Linked DNA regions of Homo sapiens. The protein of the gene in region 1 purifies or fractionates together with the protein of each later gene. This does not show direct contact. Each region holds a gene or a part of one and is shown in the gene's direction. Other genes may lie near its edges.

Region 1 (3,500 bases):
TTACTAATAGTATAGTATTATTTGTAAATTAAGAGGTAGACACTGTGAGCAATGCAAATATGTGAGCTATATTCCGTTTCTGGAGTTTACATTTCCACTGGCAGGACAAGATAGAGACATATAAAATGGTCAAGTTACAACACAGTAAATGATATAATTTTGTCAAAATCAGTGATTGACATTAAGTGTTACATATAATGAAAGAAGAGAGGGATTGTTGAGGCTTGACATAATTTGGAAAGTCTTCATAGAAGCAAAGCTTAGGGGCCGGGCGCTGTGGCTCACGCCTGTAATCCCAACACTTTGGGAGGCCGAGGCAGGCGGATCACCTGAGGTCAGGAGTTCGAGATCAGCCTGGCTAACGTGGTGAAACCCCATCTCTACTGAATATACAAAATGAGCTGGGAATGGTGGCATGCACCTGTAATCCCAGCTACTCAGGAAGCTGAGGCAGGAGAATGGCTTGAACCCAGGAGGCAGAGGTTGCAGTGAACCAGGACCACACCACTGCACTCCAGCGTGGGTGACAGAGTGAGACTTTGTCTCCCCCTAAAAAAAAAAAGAAAAGCTTGGATTTCTTCCCAAAGAATGGGTATGATTTATTATGTACATATATAGATTCTTTTGTATTCCTAACAAGAATACAATTTAACTATAGTATTTAACAAGAATACAGTGTAAATAGAGTATAGTATTTGTTGCAGTTATGAAGCATAAATTGTTTTTGATAGTTGAAATTAAGGATTATAGCCAAAAGTGTCCTAGACAAATGCAAATTGATTTCTAAAAATGAGAAAAGTATAATTGTATCATTAACCTGGACAATGACTAGTGAAGTTGTCACTTCTTACAGGGCTGCGGTGGCTTGTGTCGGAGCATTTTATGAAAAAATGGGGAGAATGTTGGGCAGCGCATTTCCAGAAACGGTAAATAATCTATTGAAATCTCTGAAAAGTGCAGAGGTAAGTTTTACAACCAATATTATTTGAATATTTGCTTGTGGCAAGAGTTAGATGTCAGCTAAAATATGTTTGTTTCTTTTTCTGTCACTGTGGTCTCATATTGCTTAGCAAGGAGGTAATTACAAATTATTACTTGTCCCTTCTTTTAATGTATATCAGGGGGAAGGGAAAGAATGCTTTTCTTTGACAAGGAATAGGTTTACTTGTTATTTTTTATTTAGTCCTATGGTACTTTTGGATTGGCTTTTTTTTTTTTCTTTTTTTTGGTGCCATAGCTAATGTGTTAATTTCCTGGTTACTGTAATAAATTACCTTAGACTGGGTGGCTTAAAACAACAACAATTTATTGTCTCACAGTTCTGGAAGCTGGAGGTCTGCGATAAAGTGTCAGCAAGGCCATGTTTCCACTGAAGGATCTAGGGAAGAATGTTTCCTTTCCTTCTTACCTTCTAGTGGTTGCTGGAAATCTTTGATCTTCCCTGGCTTGTAGATGCATCTCTCCCATCTCTGTCTCCTTTGTCACATCACCTTTTTCCTGTCCCTTTGTGTTTTGTGTCTAAATTATTTCCCTGTTCAGTGATACCAGTCATTGGATTAGAATTGGATACCTTTTCTGGGAACTATTTGTCTATTCATTCATTAAAAAAGAATTGAGGACTTATTATTTGTCAGGCATTAAACATACAAAGATGGTCCTGACCTCAAAGAACTTACAGTTTAGTGGAAGAGAGCTAAGTGTGAATAAGCATTGTGATACACTGTGATGAGTATACTATCAGAAATAACAATAAGCACTATGAGAATATGGATATAACAGTTTGAGTTAGTCACAAGAAGATGAAGGTTTGCTGTATTTCTGACATGTTTTTTTAAATGTGTTGGATGTTTTCTGCTTCCTTTTTTGGATCATTTATATATTATTTCTCAACTTTTTTACTTAATATTTTACGTTCTGAAATATTTTATATATTGAGATATGATATTGAAGCTTTTGAATCTCTTCATGTTTTCATTATATTGTATGTACTTCAGTAATTCATAGAAATATTGGAATATATTTACTTAAAACCTAATTTTTTAGAAAGATATTATTTAATTGACTATTCTTACTTGCCAGGTACTTTCTAGAATACTTAATTTTATTGTACTTTTCATTATTTACCGTTTATAATTTGGAGGTAAGACCATTAGACCCAAAGAACTTTTGTCTTGGTGTGTTCTTGTTTAAATATGGAATTTATTTTACAAAATAGTTTTGTTTTGTATACATGTCTAGTCTCAAGGGCGAAGTGAAATCTTAATGAGTCTACAGAAAGTTCTAAGTGGACTGGGTGGTGCAGCAGCTTCCTCCCATCGTGATATTTACAAGAATGCCAGGTCTCTCTTGACTGATAGGTCAATGGCTGTTCGATGTGCAGTGGCCAAGGTTAGTACTCGACCAATTTAGAATACTGCTCTTTATCCTTCTTGCTCTTAAACAGTCAACGATTTTTTTTTCTTTTAAAATTTTAAATTATGTTTTGTGTTCCAATGGATTAGTTTCATTTTCTAGAATTATATATAATAGTATCACATCATGAGATGTACTTTTGTGTATGTGTATTCTGGCTTCTTTCACTTAGTATAATTGTTTTGAAATTCATTTATGTTGTTATATGTATCCATAGTTCATTCCTTTTTATTGCTGAGTAGTATTTCATTGTATGGATATGTCACATTGATTTGTTCACTCACCTGTTATAAACATTTGAGTTGCTTCTAGTTTTGATTATTACAAAAAAACTGCTGTGAACATCTGTATATAAGTTTTTGCACAAACATATGCTTTCATTTCACTTCCGCAAATAACCTAGGGATGGAATAGCTGGTTCATAGGGCAGATTTAGTTTAACGTTCAGAAAAGTACAAAACTGTTTTCCAAAGTACTCGTGCCATTCTGCATTTCTACTAGCAGTGTATGAGAATTTCTCTTCCTTCATATCATCACCATTGTTTGTTACTGACAGTCTTTTTAATTTAAGCCATTCTAATGGATACATATGTCATTGTATCTCATATCTCAATGGTATCTCATTGTGGCTTTAATTTGCATTTCCGTGATGACTAATGATAAGCATATTTTCAGGTGCTTATTTGCCATCCATATCTTCTTCGAAGAAGGATGTGCTCAATCTTTTGTCCATTGTTTTATTGGGTTGTTTTATAATTATTGACTTTTGAGAGTGTTTTATAGGTTTTTTACATATTCCTTTATCAGATATGTGATTTACAAATATTTTTCCCAATGGGTGGCCTGTCTCTTTATTCTCTAAACAGTGCCTTGTAAGGAAAAGAGATTTTGAATTTCATCCAGTGTATCAATTTTTCTTATATGGATTGTGCTTTTGGTGTTGTATCTAAGGAAACATTTCGTAAACCAGGGTTTGTCCTGTGTTTCCTTCTAGAAGTTTTATAGTTTTATACTTAGATATGTGATCCATTTTGAGTTAATTTTTGTATATGTTGCAAGGTTTGAATCAAAATTTTTTGTTTTTTTTT
Region 2 (2,575 bases), on another chromosome or scaffold:
TTTTAATTTTATTCACTTAACAGCTAACATCTTTCTTGTTTCTTGTTTTTTCCATTATATGGTTATCGATTCAACTCTTGCTATATTCCTTAAATTTGTATGTATCATCAGAAGAAAGAGATGAACAATTTAGTGTAGATATTTTATTCTGGAGAATAATATTCAATTAAATTATTTCTACAGCAGGCCAGTAACAACTAGATTATTTGTCCTTTCTCAGTATAATTTTAAAGAGCATTTTGTTTTATTGTCACAATTTGGTACCACTAGTCCCAGGTAACCATTGGGCCAAAGGATCAGTTGAGAAACAGTTAAGGATGAATTAGCATAAGTTATGGAACAGTGTTAGAAAACAACTCAAAAGTATATTCTTTATTAATGAGGTGGTCATTATTACATTTGTGTCAATGAAGGGCAGTGTAGTTATTTTAAAATGACTAATATTTTCTCCCCAAATACAGAATAATTCAGATGGGCAACCAAGTTTTCAAGAGACTGCTGTAGGTGAAGTCTGTCTAGCCAAGGCAGAACACTTACAGGAGTCCCTAACTGTGCCACCCTTGGAATGGGTTAGTGTACAGGCTCAGAATATTGTGGATTACAGTTTTTCAGAGAAAACTACCACAGATGTAGACAAAAATGATCTCTGAAAGCATTGCCAGCAGCCAGGTATGTTCCTTAGATTTCCACTTAGGTTTGGCATTTTGGCAGATAAGCTAATCTTGTATAAAGCATCACATTTTACTATGCTTAGTGTTCCTGGGTTGTATTTATCTACATTATTAGAGGGAATTTTTATTTTAAAAAAATTGTCATTCATGAGAAGAATGGGAGTTCATGCCACATAGTATTTTACCAATTTATATAAAGTGGGAAAAGTCTTTAATACTTCATGATCACTTGAATTAAAGTTTTTGTATCTCTGGAAAGTAGAATAGTGCTTTCATTTGAATGAAAAGTGTTTATAGATTCAGAAAGAGAGATGATATCTTTGTATCTTGATTTATATACAGACCATTTCAGAGGAAGTTAAATGTCTTACAAATCCAATACTTTCTAATGCTCTAACAGTGTTGGCTATTTAAAAGAACATGTGGCAAGTTCTATATGAATATTCTTGGTCATCTCGACTAATTCTGAGGCAATGATGGACAGAGATGCTACTTCTTATTTAACTCTAGGCATGTTGACTTTTCAAAGCGGTTTCCTTATTTCTAAACAGAGATGATGATCAATGAGTTACTAATTCTTTAGAGGAAAAAATGCATAATTTGAGTGTGGAGTTGATTTTAATGACAGGGTAATTCAAGTTGTTTGATAAATTTATTACTATATTGTAAGAGAGATCTTTGACCATTTTTCTTCCTTTTTCTTGGACATCACTTTCTTCCCTCCCCTTCTCTCTTTTATGTTTTTATCCTTGTTAAATTTTATGTTTACGTTACCATCTTTCTTATACTTTCCCCTGATTTTTCTCTTTTAATTCCTCTTTCATTCTCTGCCTCTTCTCTTTCAGCTCTTTCTCTAATTGTGCCTATTCCTTGTTCATAAGAAGTGGAGCTGTTAGTGGTAGAACCACTGCTCATGGTTCTACCACTACAAAGTGGAAAGTAGAAATACTTTGCACTTTGGCCACTGTTGCGTTTTTGCCAAGGTAAAGTTCCCCTGCCATTTTGAAATAGCTGAACAAGTTAAAGTAATATGTTCCAAAAACTGGAAGTGCCATAAAAAACTAAAAATAAAAAAAAATTGTGACTATAACTCCTACTGTCTTTATGAATACACGGGATTCAGCAGCCAAGATGCTCACAAAATGGGATTGCTATAAATATGATGGATTCAGCACCTAAATTTGGAATAATCATGTCTTTTCTGTTATGTGGGTAGAGAGATTATATATCTTTTCTCAAAGTAAAGTATTTAAAACCTGTTTAAATGAGGGTTTTGGCTGGCGTGGTGGCCCACACCTGTAATCCCAGCACTTTGGGAAGCCAAGGTGGGAGTATCACTTGAGGCCAGGAGTTTGAGACTAGCCTAGACAACATAGCAAGATCCTATCTCTAGTTCAAAAAAATATTTTTAATTAGGGTTTTGGTTTTTTATGATTTTGGGGGGTGGGGGAGATATTTGTTTTTTTGAGGCAGACGTTTAAACTTTTAGATTTATCCCATCTTAATATTGATTTATATTGACACTGCCTACTTACAAGAATAATTTGAGGCAGCATATTGCCCATGTATTTCAACTATTTTCATTTTTCTGTTGCAAAGCAGTCTTTGATGGAAGACCCGGAATCTTATAGTTCTCATATCTGAGTCTTTCTGGAGTGTATTTGGTGTCTGTGTGATTGGTTCACCCAGAGGTCACCCAGAGGTCAATTGAAACCTTCCTAATTGTACTATGGTATTGATTCTATCCCCTCAAGTATGAAAAAATTAAATTTTCAGACCATTTTCAGTTGCTGCGAATGTAGTTACACTAAGTTTTATTTTAAACTAAAATTCAATAAACAGTGCAGCCAGGGAAGATCTGCTAAACCATGCCGTTATTTGGAAAATCATTGCAATATATTAAC

What was found. Proteins that work in one complex are often made in the same cells at the same time.
Region 2: the proteins of HEATR5B (region 1) and MON2 purify together in Homo sapiens (affinity purification with mass spectrometry, with the first as the bait; one study listed by BioGRID). This does not show direct contact.

What each region holds. Positions count from the first base shown.
Region 1 is NC_000002.12:37,074,373-37,077,872, reverse strand, and holds part of HEATR5B (HEAT repeat-containing protein 5B), read left to right. Parts: intron 1-853; coding exon 854-962; intron 963-2,238; coding exon 2,239-2,388; intron 2,389-3,500.
Region 2 is NC_000012.12:62,595,826-62,598,400, forward strand, and holds part of MON2 (protein MON2 homolog), read left to right. Parts: 3' UTR 1-2,575. UniProt on the Homo sapiens protein: Plays a role in regulating membrane trafficking of cargo proteins. Together with ATP9A and DOP1B, regulates SNX3 retromer-mediated endosomal sorting of WLS away from lysosomal degradation.